Linked DNA regions of Homo sapiens: all the other regions are reported to be linked to region 4. The links are microRNA targets in miRTarBase. Many come from high-throughput screens and were not tested one by one. Region 4 holds a microRNA gene; each other region holds the end of a gene's coding sequence.

Evidence for each region. The annotated mature microRNA hsa-miR-4695-5p reads CAGGAGGCAGUGGGCGAGCAGG and lies in region 4 at 2,028-2,049, shown strand. An mRNA with a match to its seed (bases 2 to 7 or 8) in the 3' UTR can be bound and repressed. Matches are read on the target gene's strand: a 7mer-m8 pairs with bases 2 to 8, a 7mer-A1 pairs with bases 2 to 7 and ends in A, and an 8mer does both.
Region 1: miRTarBase lists ATOH8 as a target of hsa-miR-4695-5p. Seed matches in the 3' UTR shown: 7mer-m8 at 1,258-1,264 and 7mer-A1 at 731-737.
Region 2: the mRNA of FBXW2 is a reported target of hsa-miR-4695-5p. Seed matches in the 3' UTR shown: 7mer-m8 at 1,808-1,814, 8mer at 1,775-1,782, 7mer-m8 at 96-102 and 7mer-m8 at 64-70.
Region 3: miRTarBase lists TMEM216 as a target of hsa-miR-4695-5p. The part of its 3' UTR that is shown has no 7-base or 8-base seed match.
Region 5: the mRNA of KNL1 is a reported target of hsa-miR-4695-5p. Seed matches in the 3' UTR shown: 7mer-m8 at 3,497-3,503.

Annotation. Positions count from the first base shown.
Region 1 is chr2:85,786,499-85,791,601 of GRCh38, reverse strand. It overlaps ATOH8 (atonal bHLH transcription factor 8), which reads right to left. Exons shown (of 3, transcript NM_032827.7): 3 at 219-4,717. The coding sequence ends at 4,712. Among named protein-coding and RNA genes, the nearest start is that of MIR6071, 5.4 kb to the right of the region's middle.
Region 2 is chr9:120,760,458-120,765,560 of GRCh38, forward strand. It overlaps FBXW2 (F-box and WD repeat domain containing 2), which reads right to left. Exons shown (of 8, transcript NM_012164.4): 8 at 1-4,390. The coding sequence ends at 4,102. Among named protein-coding and RNA genes, the nearest start is that of FBXW2, 30 kb to the right of the region's middle.
Region 3 is chr11:61,397,843-61,402,934 of GRCh38, forward strand. It overlaps TMEM216 (transmembrane protein 216), which reads left to right. Exons shown (of 5, transcript NM_001173990.3): 4 at 1-133; 5 at 428-1,004. The coding sequence ends at 434. It overlaps CPSF7 (cleavage and polyadenylation specific factor 7), which reads right to left. Exons shown (of 10, transcript NM_001142565.3): 10 at 4,887-5,092. Among named protein-coding and RNA genes, the nearest start is that of TMEM216, 7.8 kb to the left of the region's middle.
Region 4 is chr1:18,880,196-18,885,298 of GRCh38, reverse strand. MIR4695 (microRNA 4695) reads left to right here and starts at 2,024; the gene lies at 2,024-2,097. ALDH4A1 (aldehyde dehydrogenase 4 family member A1) reads left to right here. Exons shown (of 15, transcript NM_003748.4): 6 at 1,871-2,020; 7 at 2,101-2,175; 8 at 3,412-3,599. RefSeq lists a silencer at 939-1,170.
Region 5 is chr15:40,661,562-40,666,648 of GRCh38, reverse strand. KNL1 (kinetochore scaffold 1) reads right to left here. Exons shown (of 26, transcript NM_144508.5): 26 at 2,307-4,575. The coding sequence ends at 4,461. Among named protein-coding and RNA genes, the nearest start is that of RAD51-AS1, 31 kb to the left of the region's middle.

The DNA of each region.
Region 1 (5,103 bases), not on the chromosome of region 4:
GTGCTGTGATGCTGTCCTCTTCGCTCAGTTCTCAAAGACTCGGCCACATAAAGAGCAAAAAGGTCCAAGGCCAGGCTTCTCTCGGCTCTAAGCCCCTCTCCCTTCAAGCCTCTCCGAAGCCATATAAAAGATCACCTGGCCTGGGTCCTGTTTTCCCCAGGTCTTGAACAAATTAGATGCTTGGGAGTTATTTGTGGAAGGAAGAAAACAAAAATGAGTGAATTACCACATTTTCCATGTTTTATTCATTCATTCAGCAAAGAAACCAATATATACACTTTGCAAGAAAGCCGTTTCGAGGATCAGGGGTTGAATTAGATCCAAACTTTGATCTCCAGGAATTCATAGTACCATCTGAGATTAGACACGTACCCACAGTTCTGGAAAACACTGTCATTGTTTGTCTATCAAGTTCCTCAGGATGCCTGGCTTCAGGGAGGCAGGCATAGTTTGTCTGGGGTCCGGGTCACCAGAAGGGAGACATGTGGGAGGGCAAAACCTGGGGGCAAAGGGAGAAGCCAGCTGCTCCTCACAAAGCAGGGACCCTGTGCCCCGCTGTCTTCCTGGAACCAGGAAACAGAAAGCAGCTGTGAAGGTGGCAGGGCAGCAAGAGAGCAAGACGAGAACAACGGTACAGATCCACTCAAAGGGTTTCCTTGGAGATGTCTGAGTCTTGCTGTTTGTTGCCTGGGATGCTGGCAATGACCACTTCGTGGCTCAGGAAGCAGCATAGGAGGGAGGCAAGTGTAGCCCCAACTCCAGTCCCCTCGCCGGCTTCCCACGGCTGACCACAGCGCGGCCCCTGTCTTATCCTAATTAGCTGCACCTATGCCTCCGTCCAGGCTCACCGGCAAGCTCTTGAGCACAGAGGAGCTCTGTACCTGCAGCTCCCAACACAGTCCCTGCACATGGCAATGCTACCCAGTTCCCAGCCCCTGGGACCTGCCTACTCATGCCTCCACTAGCTGTGAGAAAGGGGAACTTGGTGGAGGTGGAGAAATCCAGAAAAAAAGAGAACAGCACAGAGCCTTGAAGGATGTGGCCATGGAGACAGGAAGGAGCATAGTGTGGGGGGATGAACACTTGCTCAAAACCTCACCTCCAGAATTTAACCCTCTCTTCTGGGATAGTCTCAGGCCAGACCCAGGAAGCAGCACAGTCTGTGGGCAGTCTTTGGAGAGTCTTGCAAAGCTTGGCCTGTGAGCTGAGATCTCCAACTCCCAGAGCCATTCCTTCTGGTTTTGTTCTGCAGAGAGCAGGAGGCTGGCACACACACACATGAAGATGGGTGTGCACACGTGGGGCTTCATGCAGACATACCCAGGAAGATCTTGCGGGTCCCTGGAGAGGGCCCCCTCATCCCTTTATGGCCTGTGCCTGGTGACCCAGAGCAGACAAGACAAGGAGAGTGTGCTACAAACATCCACAGGTGACTCTGTGACCACAAACCCAAGGCTGGACTGCAAAGTGCTTTCACAGGGCCCCATGAGGGCAGCTCCTCGTCATTTATATTTTGCTGAGGGTCTCCTTGAATGGCTGCTTGCATAAAAGTGTTTAGAAGACTGCCGTTGGAATCTGAATCTATCTGAAATGTAATTCCATTTTCTGGAAATGTACACGAGTGTGTGTGTGGGTATGCATGTGCCCATGAGAGAGAGTATGCATGTGTGTGCATACGAACACAAGTTGCTGTGCTGGAGAGGAAGCTGGGAAAGGAGAGGAGAGCATGCACTTTTAGTCATCCACATACATACATATGTGTGCACACACACACATCCACCCAGAGCCTGTCTCCCAAATCGATGGCTCAAAGTCACTTTCTTATCGTAGACCAGACCCCACTTAGACCAGCGGCTTCAACCTTGCCTGCACATTAAGATCACTTGAGGAGCTTGTAAAAATCCCAATGACCAGGCAACACCCTAGACCAATACATCAGAATTTCTGGAGATGAAATTGGGCATCAATACTTCATATCAATATTTAATATTTAATAATCTCCTTGGGTGATTCCAATTTCCTGCCAGCGCTGAGTGCTCCTCTGCATAGAAAGCCCTTTTCCTACTCCCCTGCTCAGAAAGCTTTTACTCACCATTTAAGACGCAAGTCCCATGGCTACTTTCCAGGGAAATCCTTCCTGAGAACCTCCCCAAGAGTTAGTTCTTCCTTTCCTGAAGCTCCCGACAACACCTTAGTCATCTGCTATAATCATAATTATTTGCTTGTCTACCTGTCTGTCCCACCCTCCGTACAGAACCCAGAGCTCCGTGATGCCATGCATGACACAAGATCCATCTCTTCATTCCCACTGCCTATCTTAGTGTCTGACAGGCAGCTGGTCATCAATGATGCTTCAGAATGAAAGGGAAACATGTAATGAAGTATGTATGCAGGAGGGGGATGGGAGGTGGAGGATGGGCTCTTTCTGGGTGGTAAGGCCATGGGTTTGCTCCCTTGGCAGCAGAATGGGGTACACTCCCTTTGGTAATAGAAATGGTCTTCTATGTCAACAGTTTGATGCTGGTCAGTCCACATGTCCTGCTGCCTTAGGAAGTGCCATCAGGGTTACTCAGAGGCTCCGAGGGACAACAGAGCAGTGCTGTTATCTGTGCCAGCTTCACAGGGTGGCTGAACCTTCCTAACAGACCCTCCTGGCCCCATTCCATGCCCACTCTGTCCAGTCTGCTTCCAGAGCACCTTTGCTCTGAGGAGTGCTCAGGGCCACCTGGGTCCCCTGTTTCTGTGCCAGCCTAGGGATCCAAGACAGCATGGACACTGTGGTCCTTGGTAAAGGGCCAGCCTGAGAAACGCTACTGCAAGGGGGGCTCCCTGCAGCCAGCCCCAGCCCAGCCCAGGAGTCTGAGCAGCAGAGACGAGAAAGTGACACTGGTGAAACCAAGGGACAAACTGTGTCCTGTATGGCTGCAGCCTCCGGTCCCCTCCTATCCCCCTTTCCTTGGCCAGCCCTGTCCCTTCTGCCTTGACAGTGCTCTCCTATTTTTTATCTTATCACCCCTTCCCCCAGTCCCAATGGGCCTTTATTGTCCCTACCTTAGGCCCGCTGAGGTGAAGCAATGTGACAAGGCCACACAAGAGACTTTGGGCTGGGACTGGTGATGGGGCTGGAAAAGGTTTGAGAGCACAGGATTTGAAGTGAGCCCATCCTGATTCGATGACTGGCTCTGTCACCGACTGACCCTGTCTACTTGAGGCCTCAGTTACCCCATCTGTGAAACGGGGTTAATAATAGGGGCCCCTATCTCATAAATCCATGGTACAGATTGAGTGCAGTGCGGACAGAGAGGGCTCCTCATGTGTTCCTGACCAGGCCTCCTGGTCACTAGTCCAGGCTGAGACTACTGTGGGAACCGCCCTCCACCCCCTTCCACACACAGACACACACACTCTCACTCGGACAGCGCCTGATCCTGAAGGGCTCTCAACCTGTAGGTAGAAACCAACCCCCTCCCTCACACTCCCCAGCTGATGACCGGCCAAAGTCCTGGTCACCCACAGAGTCCACTCAACACAAGTATTTTCTTGACATTTTGGGGCTTTTACTTCAATTTGAAGCAGATGGTTGAGCACAGACGTGAACAGCTTTGGCCATTTGAGCACAAGGAAGGGGCGGGCCTTGGCTTTGAACACGCAGGCCCCATCCTCCACATACTGGCCCAGTCCCCTGGTCCCTTCCTTCTCTGCCCCTGCACACCCTGTAACAGACCACCGCCCTCCAAGTGGGGCGCCATCTTGCCCAGTAGGACGGCTCCAGCCAACCCAGCCTCTACTCCTTCCTCAGGCCACGTGCAGGCTGAACAAGAGAAAAACTCTTTTTCTGTCCATGGCAGGGCCTGCCCATGGTGCTGGCTGCCTGGGACGGGGGCCCATGGGGGTGGGTCACAGTGAGGAGAGGCTGGCTGGGGAAGCAAAGACCCATAGGTAGCTGCCCTGGGGCAAGTCCCTGGTGTAGGGGAGGGAGTAATATTGCTTCTCTCCCTGCTTACTCCCTTCTGGTGATGCTTAGGGCCCAAGGAGCCTGGACCCAAGGGACACTGAGAACTGGGGCCAGTGGCCTGGGCAGCCAATGAAGGGGAGAGAGTGGGCAGGGATCTCAGGTCCCACTCCCAGCCCCGCCCAGGCACCCCAGCCTCCCTCTCACAGCCCCTAAGGCTTGTCTTGCACTCAGCCAGCACAAGGCCCAGTGGAGAGAGAGCACCAGGTCAGAGGGCCAAGATGACCCCCAGGGGTCATCAAATGCCCATCCATTCCATGAGTTCCTAGCAGAACCACTGACTCATCTTTGGCTTGAGATGGGGCTCAGGCAACAGGAGGAGCAAAAGTCACAGAGCAACGGTGTGGCTTTTCGCTGTGGGGTTTCACCACCCCATTTCCTTCGGTGTCTCTGTCCAATCTTTGGCAACGAATTTCTGCAGCTGGACAGTGGGCCTTGGGGTCTGAGTGAGTCGGGGGCTGAGCTCTCCCCTCCCCACCAGGCAGAGGGCAAAGTGCGAAGCAGCCTCGGATTGGCTGGGTGAGGGCGGAGGGGAGAGGGAGGCAGGCGTGCTCCGATCCGACCCTGAGAGGCTGTAGGCTGGGCATCTGGCGGCATCTTGGAGAAGACCACGAGGCTGGACTCAGCGAGCTCACCTTGTCCTCAGGCCTGACTGGAAGGAGGGCCCACAGTGGTGGCCTTGGTCTTGCCTGCAGCCAGTCACTCCTGAAAGACATGACCAGCCATTAAAAGCTGCCCCTGCTCCACCTGGTTCCTGTTTCTGGACAGCTGCAGAATGTCCCTTCACTGAGTCCTCCAGGCAGAGGGGCCCCCACCTTGAAGGGTTCGATAAGTGGAAGAGCCAGGATTCAAACCCCGGCCTGGCTGCCTCCAGAGCCCACACTGTCCCCCTGTTCCTTAGTGCTGCATTTCAGAGGCCCTGCGTTTTGGTTGGTTTGGGGAAAGAAGAGGACCACAGTGGGTAGTGGGAGCCAGGGCCGCTGGAAGCTCGGGGACACCTGGGGCTGACACCACAATCCCCAGGGCCACCCCTCTGAGGGATCTCAGAGGCCCGTCCCCACCCTGGGGTGGCAGGCTCCTCTGCAGGCTCA
Region 2 (5,103 bases), not on the chromosome of region 4:
GTCTCTACTAAAAATACAAAAATAGCTGGGCGTGGTGGCACGCGCCTGTAGTCTCAGCTACTCAGGAGGCTGAGGCAGGAGAATCGCTTGAACCCAGGAGGCTGAGGTTGCAGTAAGCCGAGATCACGCCACTGCACTCCAGCCTGGGGATAGAGCAAGACTCTGTCTCAAAAACATACAAAAAAAACAAAACAAAACAAAAAAAACAGTGATGTTGGTAGGATTCACCTCTAGGCAATCTGGAAGCCACACAGTAACAACTTCAAGTTGCCAGCTGGGTTTGGTCAAAGAAATGTGTAAAGCCAGGATCCACTATCCTTAGCTGATTCTGTTAGATCAAAATGCCTAATACAAACAATTTCCTCATGTCTAAAATACTGTTTCCGAAAGTTATTTCTTTTGTTTTACAAATAGAGAGCAGTAATCATTTTCCTATGAATACTAGAATGATTATATAATCCTCATTCAAACCTCACACCAAGTGTTTTCAACAGCCAGAACAGAGCAATTTTTAAACTACGAAAAATGAAGTGCAAACCTTACAATTTCATAGCAATGTTCCCCACGTTTCACTCATGAACAGCTATCCAATTGCATGCACCTTCCTGCAGAACTTCTTCCAAGTCCAGTCCTTCCACTGGAGGGGCTTTCTTCCTATTTCTCCAATAGGTCTAAAATGTCAGGTTACAGTCAGATTTGGCAATGTGTATTACTTCAAATGATTGAGCTGGAGGAAACTACATTCCTTTGGAATGATGACAGAATCTATCAGAAACTTCACACATCCACTCAGCTCTCCTGGATCCCTGTCCACACCATGAAGCCTGAAGTTGTTATGATGGCCTTTATGAACCTGAAAGAAGCCGCTGGCTTCCACCACACCACAGTGTCACCCAAGAAATCCAATCCTTGTAAGAAAGGATAGGGCTTATCTTCTCATGACTTAGAATTTTTCAGAAATGAGAATATTCACAAAAGAGGGAAAGGCAATTCCCTTACCTATGCGCTAAGGAAGCCAAAGTCAGTGTGTGCAAGAGCTAGCTCTCAAAGGCAATGAAAGGAGAGTAAAGAATAGTTTTAGTTATCCCCTATCCACTTCTCATTCTGACTCCCCACTTTGCTTTCTTTTGCAAAAAGGATGAGCTAGTTTTCCATTTTTATAAAAACTGGCGATAGTATGAATAAACCCAGCATCTATAAAGTAGTTGAATAAAATCTCAGGCCAAATAAAGGCCTCCATAAGGAAGAACTGACATTAGGACTCCAATTACTGCCTGAAGTTCTGCTGTCAAAATCCAGCTGCATGATGATGCCACTGTACTCCAGCCTGTATGACAGAGCAAGACTGCCTAGGAAAAAAAAAAAATTCCAGCGGCACCAAGTACCACCTTGATGACTTCTGTATTCACCACTAAAAACTGAAATAGAACATACTATATACAGCTTCAAGTTTGTCACTTTTTAATAAAACTTTTCCCACAAATGATTATAATTACTTGCCCTTTGAAGCTATTGGATAGATCTGAAAGTGAGGTAGGGTGGGGATGGTCATTAGATCAGTAATAGTTATCTGTTCAGGCTCGATAAAAAGTAAAAACTCGGCCAGGCGTGGTGGCTCACGCCTGTAATCCCAGCACTTTGGGAGGCCAAGGCAGGTGGATGACCTGAGGTCAGGAGTTCAAGACCAGCCTGGCCAACATGGTGGAACCCTGTCTCTACTAAAAATATAAAAATTAGTTGGGTGTCATGGCAGATGCTTGTAATCCCAGCTACTTAGGAGGCTGAGGCAGGAGAATCACTTGAACCCAGGAGGCGGAGGTTGCAGTGAGCCAAGATCGTGCCATTGCACTCCAGCCTGCGCAGTAAGAGCGAAACTCTGTCTCAAAAAAAAAAAAATAATAATAAAGTAAAAAGTCATTTACCATCATCATTGCCCAAAGTCTCCTGGGGCTTCTGCAAAATAGATTCAGTTGTGATTCCGGTTCTATTTCTAGAGTACTAAGCAGAGCTGATGCACAGAACTCAATGTGAGATAGATTAAACCCAGATTTTGTGGGATGGGGGAAGATATTGTTCTTTTGCTTAAACCCCACAGAGTTTCAACATGGATATTAATGATATCTGTCCTTGAAATTCACCATTAATTTCTATCAACTTCACAGCACTCAGAGGTCCAGAGTCTGGCTCTATGCTAATGCAGATTCTGCAAGAGATAGGTCCCCACTCTAGAGTTCACATCATTCTCAGCTCTGCCAGCAACCCTTTTTCTCACCTGTAAAATGGATATGCTTTATACTGGAGTCAGCAAGAAGGAATAACTCATGTTCCCAGACATAAGCTGTCACTGAGGTTCCAATTCTTATGTTCATCTTCAAACTACCTTCCTATTGGTCTGTGAATGAAATACATCCCTCCCCACCACCCTTGTAATACAAGGGGAGACAGCTGAAGAGCGGCTGAGATTTTTCTACTGCTTGCTCCCTCTACTCTCTCCCTGATTGTGACCACTAACATTTCCACTGCTGAATCACAAAATTACCTAACTTTAGAGAGGGAGGAGGACACAATCTGGCAACCCAGGGACATGTTTTGTTTGGCTCACCTTATTTCAAATTTTCTTTAATCAGTTGTAACGTTTTAAAAATCCAGGATTTCAAATAAAAATCTGGATTTCTAGCTCCTCCTGAAACAATGTGAAGACCTGCCAACCCTGGGCTTGCTTCTCCTAATGACAAAACAGAGCTGAATAACTGCCCTATTAGATCAACTTTCCAGGGGACAGCACAATCCTCCCCAGAATGTTTTACTCATTTATGTTACCTGCACGGCTCCCTTAGGCATTTGGGTTTGTGAGCCCTCATCTAGGACAATTCCCTCACTTAAAAGATGAAGAAAATGATGGTCTTAGAAGAGAAAGTTAACTTGCCTGAGGCTGCAGATTAAGTTAGAGGCAAAGGAGGAAGTTAGGTTGGGTTCAGGTATCCTTCTAGTATAGCATACTGTGTCCCTATTTAAACCATGGCTTCTATCAGCATTTCTTCAACCAATTACTTAAACTGTCTAAGTGGAATCAGCTATATTTTCTACATTTCCCTTTTATTCATCCTTTTCATATAATTGATGTTCTTATAGAAAACTCTGTAACAGTCATTTCATTTAAATATTATCCGACCTGAAAGAAACCATGAATCAGGGATCAGACAAAAATACATGATCAACTTTTACACATTTCAGTAGGTGAAGGACCAGAAAGAATCTTAGAAATCACTGAGCTTCATACCTGGCTGTACAGACAAGGAAGCTGGGACCCAGAGAGGGTGCAGAGTTCCAGGGTAAGAGGCCCGGTCTCTAACCTTCCAGCTCACTGCTCTTTTCTGCTATACCAGGGCACCGCTGTGCAGTCATCCAGGCTGCCGGGGACTAGCTTCCCCGACATGGCAACAAAAACTACAGAACTCGCTCACATCTTAAACATGGCCAACCTTGACTCTGCCAAGATATAAGGTTTAGAATGAGTTGCTAACATTCAATTTACAGAATTGGATTTGAACTGGAAGACAGACTTTCCTTAGCACTGGTATTTGGTGGAAGTTTATAAACTGGTATTTGGTGGAAGTTTTAACACTGGCTCTTATAAGAGCTAAACCCCGTGTGAGGAAAGTTGCTGTAACAACATCATAGCACCTTTGCTTCAACTTCAAAAGAAAAAAAGGCTATGGTAAAAAGCTTTAATAACAGACAATGTGATTTCATAGGCAACCAATTAGCAGATTAATGGATCATTTAACTTTCTTTACTTAAAACCAATACTCCACTCAAGAAAGATGAACCCAAAATGCATCCTCTAACACTGACCAACATAACTAAGTACAAATGAAGTCAATGGTGTACCCCATTAGCATGCTGCGTTGTATGTCAATAAAACAAGCCCTCCCCCACCCCGAGCCCTGGCCCCTGGCAAAACATAGATAAATGATTGTGCACTGCGTGATGATACCATTAGGTGAGAACTTTGGTTCATGCAGTCGGCTGCCGCAGAGGTTGCACCCAAAACCCGCAGCCCCGGCACCCAAAGTCAGTCAGCGGTGGTGGCTCATGGTGTCAGCCGTGCTCCTTCCACAACACCAGGTGAATACTGTGGTCAGGCATGCTGGTGGCAAAGACCAAGCCCGTGTCATTGTGCCCATCCAGTCCATTCAGCCAGGATGCTTCGCCTGCCAGGAAGCTTGAGCCTCTCTTTGATTTCCTGTACTCTGGCAGAGGCCAGCGACTAATCAGGCTCTCTGTCCGCAAGTCCATGATGTACAGGTAGCGGTTGTCAAACAGCAGGGCAAAGATATCTCCAAAGCCAAGCAAGGCCAAGTTTGCTATCTCAGGAGTCTTGATGACCCTACAAGGATGAGAGTTAGGGACTGTGAAAGAAGGCAACCTTGCTTCTGTTTATGCTACTGTAATCTTTTCTGGAGATATTTAAAACCAATATTAAATTCAAGCAAATTTAGAGTTAAATGTTTTTGATAAAAAGTAAAATATAAGGAGAAAAGCTCAGCCCACTTATAAAAAAGCCGGGAGCGGGAGAGGTGCGTTCAGTCATTATATAATATTGGCATGGAAGGGAAAGGTGGTGTTTGATCAAAGTTTTTTTTTTTTTTTTTGAGACAGGGTCTCACTGTGTTGCCCACACTGGAGTACAGGGGCGTGATCTCGGCTCACTGCATCCTCCACCTCCCAGGTTCAAGTGATTCTCCTGCTTCAGCCTCACAAGTAGCTGGGACTACAGACGGCTGCCACTGCACCTGGCTAATTTTTGTATTTTTAGTAGAGACGAGGTTTCACCATGTTGGCCAGGCTGGTCTCGAACTACTGACCTCAGATGATCTGCCCACCTCGGCCTCCCAAAGTGCTGGGATTACAGGCGTGAGCCACCGCACCCGGCCTGATGAAAGTTTATAAAAGTACAAAACATCTATCCAGGCTAGAAAGGATCTTACAGATAACATTTAACTAAACAATCTATTTTTAAGCTGTGAAAACCAAAGCTCAGGCAGAGTAAATGCTTTGGCTAAGGATTCACAATTTGTCAGTTACCAGTGAGAACTAGAA
Region 3 (5,092 bases), not on the chromosome of region 4:
CCATGATGGCCTCCTATTACCTGCTGCTGCAGACCTACGTACTCCGCCTGGAAGCCATCATGAATGGCATCTTGCTCTTCTTCTGTGGCTCAGAGCTTTTACTTGAGGTGCTCACCTTGGCTGCTTTCTCCAGGTACTGCTGCTGAGGGACCATTTCTCATCACTAGAGGGTTGGGTTCCCATCCCAGGGAGGGATTCAGTATTCTTCTGAAGCCTAAGGGGTCTAGAAGACTTTTTTCTAGAGGGAGGAAGGGGTGGCTATGGGATTGCCTTTCCTGTTTAGGGTAGGTAGATCGTTTCCCACTCAGGGAAGATACTCTCCCTATCCTTTGGGGCCAGGAGGCTTGGAATATAGAACAGTCGAGGCCAGCTGCTCTCATTCACTGGTCTTTTAACATTTTCTTTCTTTCTGCCATCGTATGGACAGGATTTGAAGTACAGAATTTCAGCCAGCAGCCCATCAGGCTGACACCACACATATTGCTTCTGGTACTTTAGCCACACCAGTGAGAATTGGTGGGGCAAGTTGTCCTGAGAAAGGCTGTGTGGCTTTTCTTCAGCACAGACATTTGGGCAAGCAACTCAGCATAAGGCCAGTGGGTACCATCTTCTAAACCAGGACCATCAGCCCAAGAGACTCTTCTACACTCCAGTATAGGGAGGGGCAAGGTTATTCCCATCCTGCCCCTTCTCAGAACCAGTCCCCTGCTGACCTCAAGTTCTCCTCCTTGATCACCGTGGCCAGAGCATCTCGTGTGGACCATCTAGGCTCCTTGGGCTTCAAGCAGGACCTGAGCCACATGCTCCCTGTACGAGCTGTGCTATACCTGTCCCACATGAGCACGGAGAGCCTCATGTTGGTGGGTTTCCAGAGTGATGTGAAAGCCTCTCACCCCAATCCTCGGAGACTGAGTTCCACAACTTTTTTAGTAGCTCATAGTGTTATTTTTCTACTCTCTTCATGAAACTAACTTTATTTTATAATAAATATGTATTTTCTGTTGTGGGGGTTGCAGCCTTTCCTTATGGCACCTGTCCCTAGAATTCATCCACTCCAAGAGAGGGTCATGACTATCCCAGCAGTTTGTTCTCAGGAGCTTTGCTTAGTGATACAGTGTGGACAAAAGGCAGTGATGACCACTGATTTTCTTCCCCAAGCTGCAGCCTAAATTAAACCCTAAATGCACTGCCATCCTCTGTATCTTCAAGTCTCTCGTCATGCAAAAGACTGCTTATTTGCTTCACTCTGCCCCAAAGTCAGCATCTTGTCTCACTCCTCTTACAGATAATTGTTAGCTTTTTTCCAGTGGGCCATGTGAAACTGGAAGAAGCATATTCTAAACTAACTTTTTTTTTTTTTTTAATTTTGGAGACAGTGTCTCAGTCTGTCATCCAGGCTGCAGTGCAGTGGCATGATCTTGGCTCACTGCAACCTCTGCCTCCCTAGCTCACGTGATCCTCCCACATCAGCCTCTCAAGTAGCTGGGACTACAGGCACACACCACCATGCCTGGCTTTTTTTTTTTTTTTTTGAGACGGAGTCTCGCTCTGTCACCTAGACTGGAGTACAGTGGCATGATCTCGGCTCACTGCAACCTCCGCCTCCTGGGTTCAAGTGATTCTTCTGCCTCAGCCTCCCGAGTAGCTGGGAATACAGGTGTGCACCACCATGCCGGGCTAATTTTTTTTTGTATTTTTAGTAGAGACGGGGTTTCACCATGCTGGCCAGGCTGGTCTCAAACTCCTGACCTCGTGGTCTGCCTGCTGGCCTACCAAAGTGCTGGGATTACAGGCATGAGCCACCGTGCCCAGCCCACTAATTTTTGTATTTATTGTAGAGATGGGGTCTTTGTTGCTCAGGCTGGTCTGTAACTCCTGGGCTCAAGCGATCCTCCCGCCTCTACCTCCTAATGTGCTCGGATTATAGGTGTGAGCCACTGCAACCAGCTGATGTTTTTTTTTTTTTTTTTTTGGTCATTTATTTTAGTATTTTGAGGCCTGGCACAGTGGCTTACACTTGTGATCCCAACATTTTGGGAGGCTGAAGCAGGAGGATTGCATGATTCCAGGAATTTGTGACCAGCCTGGGTAATATGGTGAGAACCTTGTCTCTACAAAAAATTTAAAAACAAGCCAGGTGTGGTGATGCGCACCTGTAGTCCCAGCTATTCAGGAGGCTGTGGCAGGAGGATAGCTTGAGCCCAGGAGGTCAAGACTGTAGTGAGCTATGTTTGTACCACTGTACTCCAGCCTGTGCAGGAGTGAGACCCTGTCTCAAAAATAAAATTTTGAGTCAACATAAAAGGAACACTTTTTTTTTTTTTTAAGCTGGAGAACTGTCACTCTAGATCAATGTATACTTTCTTTCTCCAAGTAAGCATCTTTAAAATTATTCCTCATTTCCTTGGTAGTGGCCATGTTTTTTAATTCCAAGAAGCCACGAGGAGCCATGACGGAATCCACTTCAGAAAACCTTGAGGCTCTTCTGTTTTCAGATGAATCCTAGATTATCTGCTCTTACTCGAAGTAAAATGTAACTTTAAGCATTCTATGCTGGCTTTAACTCTTACTTTCTATGATCAAGCTCATTCTTATCCTGAGGGGCTCTGCTGTCCAAAGCACTGATGTTTTTTCTTGTTTCCTACCCCTTCTGTGCCCTTGCCTCCCAGTTGCCCTTGGGGACTATCCAAAAACCAGAGTAGACAGGTCTAATCAGCCATGACACAGTAACAAAACCTTCAATAGGAACTGCCCTGATAATTACAAATCCCACTAATACCAATTTTCTGCTACTTTCTCCCTGTGTTGAAGAAATCGCTGGTATCAAACTGGAAGAGAGCCCATTCTGTATGGCCTATTTAGAGGTTCACTGGTTAAGCTCACTGCCACAGCAATATAAATGATTGGAAGGCTCAATTGGAAGTTGAAGGGTGCCTTATAAAATCCATTAGAATTTAAAGACCTATTTTAGAGATGAACCAAGTCTTACCCCCGACTTTGCAGGCTTAGAGATGAGAAGTGACATAACCAGCACCACACATCTGGTTATTAACAGGTGGAACTAGAAATCTTGCCTTAGGAGTCTGTCTGGATCAAGGAAATTCCATTTCCTCATACTTGAGAATGAGGATGATGGTTGAAAATGAGGCTGTGATTAGGAATAGGAAGTCCTCTCATTTACTGGGTGGTTATGTGGAAGTTTAGTGCATTGTGCTTCCTGTGGGTTGCGTGATAAATGTTCATTTTTCCTGATGCTTGTTGGAACCACCTGTGTAGATGCAGTTAGTCACATAATTAGGACATACAACAGAAACTGAGGCAGTGGAGGCCTGGCACAGTGGCTTACACTTGTGATCCCAACATTTTGGGATCACAGAAATCAGTGTAGCTAGTCTTTCAGATTTATCGTGGCCAGAGGCTGTGCTCACTAGAGTCAAGGGAAGCTGCTTTACAGTCCACACAGAGCTGGAGGTACCAAAATTCTGGGACAGTGGAGAGAACTGAGCAAAGCAACAGGCCCTGGTCATAAGCTTGGCAGAGGCCTGCTCAGCTACTCACACTCATGGCTAGAACCAGCAAGTGACTGCAGTGGTCTCGCCCAGTTTAGGAAGCATTTAGGGCAGATTGATTCTAGCTCCATACCATGGCAGCAGCTTGTGGAGACTACTAATCATCCAGTGCCTGGCAAAGTGTATTTCATTCATATAATGATCCTATGAGGCAGAAGGAAATTAATCAGATGTTAAGTCATGTGTCCAAGGGCATTCAGCTTAGAAATGGAACTGGGATTTGAACCTAGAGTAACCATAAAATCCTTCCTTTTCTACACCACCATGGTACCTCCTAGATGAAGCTGAATTTTGCCTCTAAGCTACTAGTCCTCACAATTTAGTTTACAAGTCATCTGGGGCATAAAAACCAGACACCTAGACCTTATGTAGAGATTGCTACAGCACAGGAACAGGTGTCTTAGCAAGCATGACGTACAACTAAGATGTGGGTTACCATGGAACCCAATTTGAAAGTAATAGTTTTACATTCTAAGGTATTCCAACTATTTTTTTTCCTTAAGTTTCACATCTTGATAGACCCTCTACGGAATCTCTTCTCCTAAAGCTTGTTTTTACAGTGATCTTGCCATTCCTGGTACCATACACATTATCATCTGGTCTGTGGTTCACTTTTTTTTTAAATCATTGAACCCTCCTTCACCTGGCTTTTTAAAGCCAAAAGCTTTTCTGGAGCCCCAAGATCACCCACACTATGTACTTCCTCATATTTAGGCAGTTTACAAAACATTCACATTTGTTATCTCTGACTCTTAAAACATCCCTGTGTAGAAGGCACAACAGCTATTATTTTCATTTTGTAGGTGAAAAAGACCAGGGTTACACTGCTTGTCCATATTTAGATAAACAGGTGGTAAACTAGGCACTACCAGTCAGATCTTCTAACTCCTATCAAAGGATTCTTCCCTTCCTGAACTTGATACTGGAATTTAACTGCACAAGGTAGAACATTTGCTCTGAAAATAAGTCTTAGGAATCTTGAAGGGTAAAGGATAACTTAGAAGTTTTCTTTAACCAGCTGTTTAGATGGCCAAGGAAAAAAGCTAAACCTTAAGGGATGCCTCCAAAGGTTTGCATTAGAGGTCTCTTAGGAGGCTTTCCACAGTCAACTAAAGCCATGTATCACTGCCTGACATGCAATCCTAGCTAAGAACTTGGCATTTCACCATCATTCGAGTGTCTACATCAGCCCATGCCCATGCCCCAGACACCTCAACAAATCTATTCAATGCAGAATCCATAAAACAGCTCACACCCCATTTATTATTTAAAAATATTTTGTTACAAAAGGAAAAAAATACAATGCAGTATAAAAGATTGACAGCGTCATCAAGTTTATTACACAATTTTCAACCTATCAGAAAGACAAACAAATCACCGACAACAGGGGGACGGGACCTTGGCCTTTTTGAGGGATGGGTGTTTTTTTTCCTTTTGCTATCAGGAAATAAAACTAAAAATGGTGTCATTGAGTAAAAACAAAACAAATGGGGAGAAAAAAATTCTCCGGGTAAACGGCATTT
Region 4 (5,103 bases):
TAGGCGAGACAGATTGTGCAGAGCCCATGTGTCCTGCCTCGGAAATGTCCCCTCTCCTCCATCCCTCTGTCCTCGCTCCTAGGCCTTTGTCATGCTTTGCCTGGACTGGTGGTGGCCTGCACTGTCTCCCTGCCTCCTAGCTTGGTCAGCCCCTCGCCGCCCTCAGAGTGGTCTTTCCAACACCTCCAGGATGTTACTCCTGGCTTATGACCCACCCAGACCTCTCCACCACTGAGAGGCAAGTCCCAAGACCTGAGCCCCATACCCAGGGCCCTTCTGCCCACCTCTGTCCAGCTCGCCCACTGCTCTGCATTTCCCTGCCAAGCTGTCCTGCCCATAGTGTAGCCATTTGGCACTTAGCAGGACTCCCCGGCCATGGCAGGCATCCTCTCTGCCTCTGCCCACGTGTCCTCCTGCCTGGAATGCCTGCTGTCTCTTCCGTGCTCAGTGAACTCTTACCTCCTGGTCCAGCCCAGATGTCACCCCCTCCGTGAGACTTCCTGAGCCTTCTCCAGCCGAAAGGACTATTCCTGCCTCTGTTTCCCCAGAGCATGTTGTTCCTGCATCAGTTACAGCTCAGATTGCACTGGAGTGTATTGAGTTCCTAGGTACTGCCCCTTTACAAGCTTTTTGGACATAGTAAACATGTCTTGACATTCTCGGTCTTTTTCTGGGCTTTGCATGATACCTTTCAGGAGGCATAGCAAGCCCCTGATCAATGGTTTTCTCTGCACAGAGCTGGCATGACAGCTCCTCACCCTGCTAAATGCAAGTTGAGTGAGGAGTGGCTCTAGCAGGCAGAGTGTGCGGGGGACAGGAGTCGAGGGAGAAAGGGTTATTTCACCACCTCCAGGACCTGAGCCCTACGCTGCCAACTAACCTGGGTTCCTGAAGGGTAAATTGCAGGAGCCAGAACCCAGGCTGCTTTCTGGATCAGGCATTTGCCACTGCCTGCTCCTCGGTCCCCATGGTGAGCGCCCCCTCTGCTGCACAGAGCTGGTATGACAGCCCCTCAGCCTGCTAAATGCCTTCTTAGATTGGCTCAGCAGCCCTCTGGGGTGGGCGTCAGCTCTGCGTGTTCCTGGTGAGCCGCACGTTGCTGGGAAGACAGTCTAGGATCAGTTTAGGCTTTCTCTGTATTTGGCCTAAGACTCAGGAACTTCTAGGAAGCAAGGTACACATCTTAGCTCAGCTTCATGGGCTGTGTGTCTCTAATAGGTCGTGCACCTGCCAGTGACCTTGGGTGCCAAGAGGAGGCCACGTCAATCTGGAAAAGCCCCGTTCTTGGCTGTCCACAGTTCTTTTCCCTGCAGCTCACATTTGCTGTTATTAAGAATTGACGGTTTAAGGGAATCACAGTCACTCGCCTCTTGGTTTTTGGCCCAAACTAACCAGCAAGGCCGAACATCATTCCTGGGGAAGGAGCCATCCACCTCCCACACACCGAGTCTCTCTCCTGGTTTTCCAGTGACCAATCTCCAGCTCATGCTAATCTGCCCTTCTGTCTGGAAGGCTCTGATCCTGAATTTAGTCTGAGGCTTGACCATAGATCCTTTGCCATGCACCACCATTCAGAGTTGCTATGAAATGAAGACAGTGCATGGCAAGTACCTGGCCTGCTACAGAGGATCACTAAAATTCTTCTGATCCCCGTCCAGCCCAGAGGGCCGGCTACAGGAGGTGCTAGCTCAGGGGCTTGAGAATCCTTTCCCCCTCAGCCCCTGGGATGGGACCTGGTGAGCCCTCCAAATGTTTCCTGGTCCCTCCTGGGGCCCGGCTCAGTGCTCGCTTTGGGCACAGCGTCAGATGTGAGAAGAGGATGGACAGGAGGCTGTTGGCTGCTCCTGACCCCCGGCCCTCTGCCTTGCAGGGTAAGACCGTGATCCAAGCGGAGATTGACGCTGCAGCGGAACTCATCGACTTCTTCCGGTTCAATGCCAAGTATGCGGTGGAGCTGGAGGGGCAGCAGCCCATCAGCGTGCCCCCGAGCACCAACAGCACGGTGTACCGGGGTCTGGAGGTACCTGCAGGAGGCAGTGGGCGAGCAGGCGGGGCAGCCCAATGCCATGGGCCTGATCTCACCGCTGCCTCCTTCCCCAGGGCTTCGTGGCGGCCATCTCGCCCTTTAACTTCACTGCAATCGGCGGCAACCTGGCGGGGGCACCGGCCCTGATGGTGAGATGTGGGCACAGGTGGGACAGCGGCAGCTGGTTGTCCTCCTGGTCCCAACAGACAGACAGAGGCCACCCTGAGCCCCTTGGGTCTCAGCCTAGTCATGGGGAGAGGCACAGAAGGTGGAGGCAGCTTGGGGCTGTGGGTAGGCTTTGGGACCAGAGACCCAGTTTGAATCCCAGCGTCGTGCCTCTCTGCCTGGGAGACCCTGGCAATCCCTGAACTTCTCTGAGGCACAGTTTCCTCATCTGCAAAGTGGAAATAATAGGAAAGCCTCCATGACTGGGTTGTGAGGCTCAAATGAGACACATCCAGCAGCAGGCAGGGCTGGCCCGGAGCTGGCTGAGTGTTGGTGGCTCTGTTGATGATCATTACCGCTGACCTTCAGTGCTCACCACGTGCCTGCTGCTGTCAAGCACGGCATGGAGATGATCTCATTTCATCCTCTCAGCAGCTTCGAGAGGGAGTTGTGACTCTGCCTCTTTGCCAGATGACAAAACTGAGACACACAGCCGTGACTTACTTGGCAAGACTGAGTGACTAGTAAATAAATGATGGAGCAGAGAAAGATTTGGATGTAGTCTCTCTCGGGGTTGATGGTATTCAAGTCACTCCTCTGCCATTATCGGAGTGAGGTTGGCTATTACTGGATGAAGTCCCAGGCCTGTGGGGGAGGTGCAGCCCAGCTCCCAGACAGCCTGGGTGGGAGAGGTCCACATAGTTGTCGGGAACCCCGAGCCCCAGACAGGGGCACTGGATGCTGATGCCGGAGTGTGTACTAGGGACATGGATGGGGACGTCCTCATGCATCTGTGCACAGACAAACACGGTGCATGGCCAGGCGCCCACGTGCCTGGCTGCTGCACATGCCTGACCCAGGACATGTGCTGAGAGAGCCCGTGTGTACTTGCCCCGCCGCGCCCGGTGAGCACTCAGTGACTCTAGCAGTAAGAACAGACCTGCCTAGGTGATGGCAGGACCGGTTGGTGCAGGCTTCTGGGGAAAGGGAGCCTTGGCCAGAGCGTGGGGCAGATTGGGCTGTGCCGTGGCCTCCTTGGCAGGGACTTTTGGAGATAGGGCCAGACGCCTTGGAGGAGTGGGGTCGGGTAGGGGATGTCCTGGTTGGCACAGAGTCTGGTGGTTCCAGGTGAGGGACAACCATGCTGTAGGGTAGGGTGGGGTGGGGGTTGGGGGCTGGTGGCGCCATCCTCATGCATCACTGAAACACCTCCCGGGCAGGGCAACGTGGTCCTATGGAAGCCCAGTGACACTGCCATGCTGGCCAGCTATGCTGTCTACCGCATCCTTCGGGAGGCTGGCCTGCCCCCCAACATCATCCAGTTTGTGCCAGCTGATGGGCCCCTATTTGGGGACACTGTCACCAGCTCAGAGCACCTCTGTGGCATCAACTTCACAGGCAGTGTGCCGTAAGTCCCTGGGGATGGTGTAGGCTGTGGTGGCTAGGGGACGTTCACCTGCTCACCTGCTGTCTGCCTGGGGATGGGGCTGTGAACCCAGGGGTCATGCACGGACTCTACTCCCTTACTTGCTGTGTGGCTATGAGTGAGCCACTTCACCTCTCTGAGCTTCCATTTCTTCACCTGTACAGGGAGTGATTATCCTTAATTTGCAGAGTCATTGCAAGGATTAAACATGTTAATGAACAGGAAAGAGCTTCGCAGACTGGAAGTGCACCCTACAGCTGTGGGTAATATTGATTTCAGTGCTACCTCTGCTACTGGAAAGGGCACAGGGGAGCACAGAATGAACTGGAGGAGTCAGGAAGCCTTCCTGGAGGAGGTGACATCTAAGCAGAGGAGTTGGCCAGGCAGAGGGGAAGAGGCAGGAGAAGAATATATATGTTGGGAGAGGGAATAGCACATACAATGTTGCCAAGCCAAAAACTTGTGCTCTGGGGCATGGCAGGATCCTGTGTGGCTGGAGTGTGGAGTTTGGGGGCGACAGGGCAAGAGAGTGAGGGCAGGGCATGGTTTGAGTTGAGGTAGGGGAGGCAGGCCACTACCTGATCTCGACCATCCATGCACTCACTGGCTGAGCAGGAAATTTGGAGCTCACACTAAGGCTCAGTGGTGAGCACACACCAGGGACAAGGTCCCGGCTCTCAGGCTGGAGGTGGCGGCAGGGAGTGGTTCAGTGACCATAAGATACTTAGGAGTCTGCAAAGGTGTCTGGCCTTTATCCTGAAGGTGATGGGAGCCATGGAAGGCTTCAAGCAGGGAGAGTGGCTGAGTCAGAGTTCTGTGTCAGGCAGAGATTGCAAATAATGGCCCCCAAATTGGATCTGGCAAGAGGCTCTACTTTCTTTGACTCCTAACAGTGATGGCCCAACTTTGTATAATTGGGACAATTTCATAGATAAATCCAAATATTGGCCTGTCTTGGTCCCCTGGACCTGGATGCTCTGATCTTGCATTTCCTGGTGGTACCACTGGCTGGAAGTGGGTGGGTGCCCTCTGGCTCCCTGCATACCTGATCCACGCTGTTTCCTTTCCCTGCTGGCTCCTCTGGGCCCCTGTGTTGGCACCCTCATTCTCAGTGATCTCTCTGTGACCTGATGCAGGAGACTGGCCAGGGACTGTTGACCTCCAGGGAGGGGTGGTAGGGGCTTGAACCAGGGGAGAGATGGGGGATGTGGAGAAGGGGGCAGGTTCAGGTGAGAAGGATGCAGGGAGGCACAGTGGCCATTGCCTGTCCTGGAGTTGGGGTTGGGGTGCGTGTGGGGATGAGGGGGGTTGTCAGCGAGAATGTTCAAGATGGGCACCTGGGAGGGCGAGCGGGCTCGGGGGAAGATGAATCTCCTGTTGGTCACTTCGGGTGTTATCTGGGTGGAGATGCCTGGAGGCAGCCAGACGCCCGGGTCTGCAGCTCAGGGTCCTTCTTACCTCCTCTTCCAGGCCCCAGGCTCTGCCA
Region 5 (5,087 bases), not on the chromosome of region 4:
CTCTGTCACCCAGGCTGGAGTGCAGTGGCGCCATCTCAGCTCACTGCAACCTCCGCCTCCCAGGTTCAAGCAATTCTCCTGCCTCAGCCTCCCAAGTAGCTGGGATTACAGGCATGTGCCAACACGTCCAGCTAATTTTTGTATTTTTAGTAGAGATGGGGTTTCACCATGTTGGCCAGGCTGGTCTTGAACTCCCGACCTCAAGTGATGAAGCACAAAAATACAGTTAGATAGAATGAATAAAATCTAGTATAGGATAACATAAGGTGATTAAAAATTTTTAAAAATAATTATATGTGATACTAAGTTTAGCATAAAAACAGATTTTAGACAGAATCAGTTTATATATCATGAAATCTTTGTACCTCGGCCTCCCAAAGTGCTGGGATTACAGGCATGAGCCACCGTGCCCAGCCTTACTGTTGCTTTTCACAAACTTTAGAACTGAAGAAAATTTTAGGCCAGCTGTGGTGGCTCACACCTGTAATCCCAGCACTTTAGGAGGCCAGTGTGGGTGGATTACTTGAGCCAGGAGTTTGAGACCATCTTGGGCAACATGTTGAAATCACATCTCCACAAAAATTAGCTGGGGGTGGTAGTGTGCATCTGTAGTCCCAGCCATTCGAGAGGCTGATATGGTAGGATCGCTTGAGCCCAGAGAGGTCAAGGCTGCAGTAAGCCATGATCGTGATACTGCACTCCAGCCTGAGTGACAGAGAGAGACCCTGTCTAAAAAAAAGAAAGAAAAAATTTTAGAAGCAAACATATTAATGCTGGAATCAATCTCTTGCCCCACAAGTATTTTTTATTTGTGGAGCAATCACCTTCAAACTCTTGTTCTTCAAGTCTGATCTGGATCTTTGGGGCTGAGCTCTGTTATGAAGTCATGTTCTAAGAAACAGTAATAATCTCACTTTCTTATTGACCAAAAAAGACATATATATTTGAGACTGGGCACAATGACTCAGGCCTGTAATTCCAGCCCTTTGGGAGGCTGAGGCGAGAAGATCATTTGAGCTCAGGAGTTTGAGACCAGCCTGGGCAACATAGTGAGACTTGGCCTCTCAAACAAACAAACAAAAAAAGACATAAATATTAAAAAAAAAAAAAAAAACAAAAAAAAAAAAACAGATTAGGAGAAGAATGAGTGATAAACAACATTACTTAGAAACAAATATATGGGGCCAGGCATGGTGGCTCACGCCTGTAATCCCTGCACTTTGGGATACAGAGGCAGATGGATTACCTCAAAAAAAAAAAGAAAGAAAGAAAAGAAAAGAAATATATCATAAGTACTTGTTAAAAGAATGAAAATAGGCTGGGCACAGTGGCTCATGCCTGTAATCCCAGCACTCTGGGAGGCCGAGGTGGATGAATCACCTGAGGTCAGGAGTTTGAAACCAGCCTGGCCAACATGGTGAAACCCTGTCTCTACCAAAAATACACAAATTAGCTGGGTGTGGAGGTGCACGCCTGTAATCCTAGCTACTCAGGAGGCTGAGGCAAGATAATCGCTTCAACCTGGGAGGCGAAGGTTTTGGTGAGCCGAGATAGGCCACTGCACTCCAGCCTGGGTGACACAGCAAGACTTCCGTCTCAAAAAAAAAAGAATGAAAATAAATGAGCTAGGTACCTACCATCACAAGAAGTTAGAAAAAGAATAGCAAACTGGGTGCAGTGACCGACACCTATAATCCCAGCAATTTGGGAAGCTGAGATGGGAGGATCTCTTGAGCCCAGGAGTCCGAGACCAGCCTGGGCAACATAGTGAGACCACATCTCAAAAACAAGAAAAATTTTTATTTTTTAATTTTTAGATGGGGGTTTCACTCTTGTTGCCCAGGCTGGAGTGCAATGGTGCGATCTCGGCTCCCTGCAACCTCTGTCTCCCGGGTTGAAGCAATTCTCCTGCATCAGCCTCCCAAGTAGCTGGGATTACAGGCATGTGCCACCATGACTGGCTAATTTTGTATTTTTAGTAGAGACACGGTTTCTCCATGTTGGTCAGGTTGGTCTCAAACTTTCGACCTCAGGTGATCTGCCCACTTCAGCCTCCCGAAGGGTTGGCATTACAGGCATGAGCCACCATGCCCAGCCAAGAAAAAAAAATTTTTTAGAGATAGGGTCTTGCTATGTTGTGTAGGCTGGATTTGAATTCTTGGCCTGAAGCACCCTGCTTGAACTCGGCCTAATCTCAGTTTTGAATAGGTAGGTGTCTCCAGAGGAAGGTTTCTTTGGTATATCTTCAAAGGTCTATTGGATAAATGCTAAAATATTCTTTATAAAGAAACACTACTCACAAAAGATTTAAAGTAATAAACTTATTTTAATAGTGCAAAATGTAATCTGCTTTCCAACCAATGAAAGAAAAACTTTCAAAAAATTTATGAAACTAGTCAATACCTTGAACAAAGAAAAACACAAATAACTAAGTAAATATTACAATTGTGTACTCCAAACCCAAAAAAGCAGAGACCGTCATTACAAGCCAAATCTTTTTTAGAGTTGGTTGTTGCAGGTTACTAAAATGCGTAAAACAAAATCTCTACTTTTCAGACTTACAGAAAAGAAATAACTCCAATAAGAAAGCTAACTTAAGTTTCATGGGAAACAGATCATATTGATGACTTTAAAATGTTTTTCAAGGAGTTTACGGAACAGAACATCTATATCTTGATTTTTATGGCAAATGAGGTTTGTCTTGACTTTTGAAGCTTATGTGTCTTTTGACGTATAGCTCAGAAGTAAAAACCAATCAAGAGGGACAATAACATTCAGGGGATCCACAGGACTTTAACCTGATCCAAAAATATAAAGCAAAATTTTGAGACAAATTAGCTTAAAAATGCAAATGTATTTTGGTTTATAATTAAATATAAAACAAAAATTATCACAATTAGGATTTGAATGAAGTTTGAGTAAATTTTTTTGTCTACTTCATACATAATATTGGTCATTTAATAATATGTATGACAAGGGTATGGCATCAGAAAACAATACTTACAGCAAGTCTATTATTACTGCTAGAAATTGATGAAACTAGTGTTTTGGATGTGACATTGTTTGACGTGTCACTATTTAATAAAAGAAAATAGAAAATTTTGCTGTAAAACATTCTTCAGAAAATTGGGAACTGCCTAGACAGATGAGTATCTATATACCTCAATGAATTTCTATGTACATCTCCTTACTACATCACAAACACAAAAACAACATTAATATATTTACATATATGTACTAGACAAAAATGAATTAACTTTCCCTAGAAAAACTATACTTATTAAGAAAACATTGCTGGGTGTGGTGGCTCACACCTGTAATCCCAGCACTTTGAAGCCGAGGCAGGCGGATCACGAGGTCAGGAGATCGAGACCATCCTGGCTAACATCGTGAAACCCCATTTCTACTAAAAAGACAAAAAATTAGCCCGGCATGGTGGTGGGCACCTGTAGTCCCAGCTACTCGGGAGGCTGAGGCAGGAGAATGGCGTGAACCCAGGAGGCGGAGCTTGCAGTGAGCTGAGATCATGCCACTGCACTCCAGCCTGGGCGACAGAGCAAGACTCCGTCTCAAAAAAAAAGAAAAAGAAAACATAATAGACACCATAGAATAAAAAGCAAGGCCTTCAAAAAAAGATGGCAACCATTTCAATAGCTGAGTGCTATTGCTTTCTCTCTTTTTGTTTTTTTGAGACAGGGTCTTGCTCTGTTGCCTAGGCTGGAGTGCAGTGGAATGGTCTCGGCTTACTGCAACCTCTGCCTCCTGGGCTCAAGTGATCCTCCTGCCTTAAGCTCCTAAGTAGCTGGGACCACAGGCGCAAGCCACCATGACTGGCTAACTTTCGTATTTTTTGTAGAGGTGGGGTTTTGCCATGTTGCCCAGGCTGGTCTTGAATTCCTGGACTCAGGCTATTCACCCATTTTGGCCTCCCAAACTGCTGGTATTACAGGTGTGAGCCACCGCACCCAGCCCTACTTTCTCTTAATAGCATTTTAGTAACGGAGAAAAAGGATAATAGTTTGTAGACAGATACATTTCTACTCCAGAAATATCTGCTAGGCAGAAGCCAGGCAACCTAAAAAATCATAGCTCTATCTAGTTATGGGAAAATGGCTAATGTTCTTGTCAGTGATAACACTTCTTATACTTAAGTTAATCCTTAGGGCTTGTACTAAAGCAGAAAGCACTAGTTTAGTTAGGAGACATTTTTCCTAAGTGTCCTATTACTTAAACCTTTGGTACAAAGATGAGTAAGTTGATAGTAGGCTATGAGGCCTACCATCCAGACTTCATCACCATCATTCTGCAGAGATATAAAAAACATACAGATTAACTATAACATCATCAGAAGGAATTTTACTCAGCTTGTAATGACGTAAAAACAAAGGCTGAACAGCAATGGGACCCTGAAATAATATCAAGTACATTCTGCTTGGTTGTTCCAATGGTGGTCCAAGGGTCTAGTGGTAGAAATGGCAGTCCTGAAACAGATCTTGGTAAATTTGCTTGACTACATTCTTCAGGTAGTTGTTCTCCAGTGGCACTTTAGATAGAATGGTAGCAATATCATCTTGGCTGGAAAGAACAAAGGTTAATCAATTTTCTTTTTTGCGACGGAGTCTCGCTCTGTCGCCCAGGCTGGAGTGCAGTGGCGCAATCCGCTCACTGCAAGCTCCACCTCCCGGGTTCATGCCATTCTCCTGCCTCAGCCTCCCGAGTAGCTGGGACTACAGGCGCCTGCCACCACGCCCGGCTAATTTTTGTATTTTTAGTAGAGATGGGGTTTCACTGTGTTACTCAGGATGGTCTCGATCTCCTGGCCTTGTGATCCACCCACCTCGGCCTCCCAAAGTGCTGGGATTACAGGCGTGAGCCACCGCGCCCAGCCAGGTTAATCAATTTTTTAAAAAATCTTACACTTGTCTCTAATTCAGTGGAATTTATGTTCTTGGTCTCTCAGTTTCCTAGGAAGCACAAATGAGCATTTCTGGAAATAACCAGATATCCAGTTTGAAATGGGATTCCAAAACAGGGCCTAAGAACCAATTCTATATGTAATTGTGAAGTATCTTAACCTAGCTACTTTT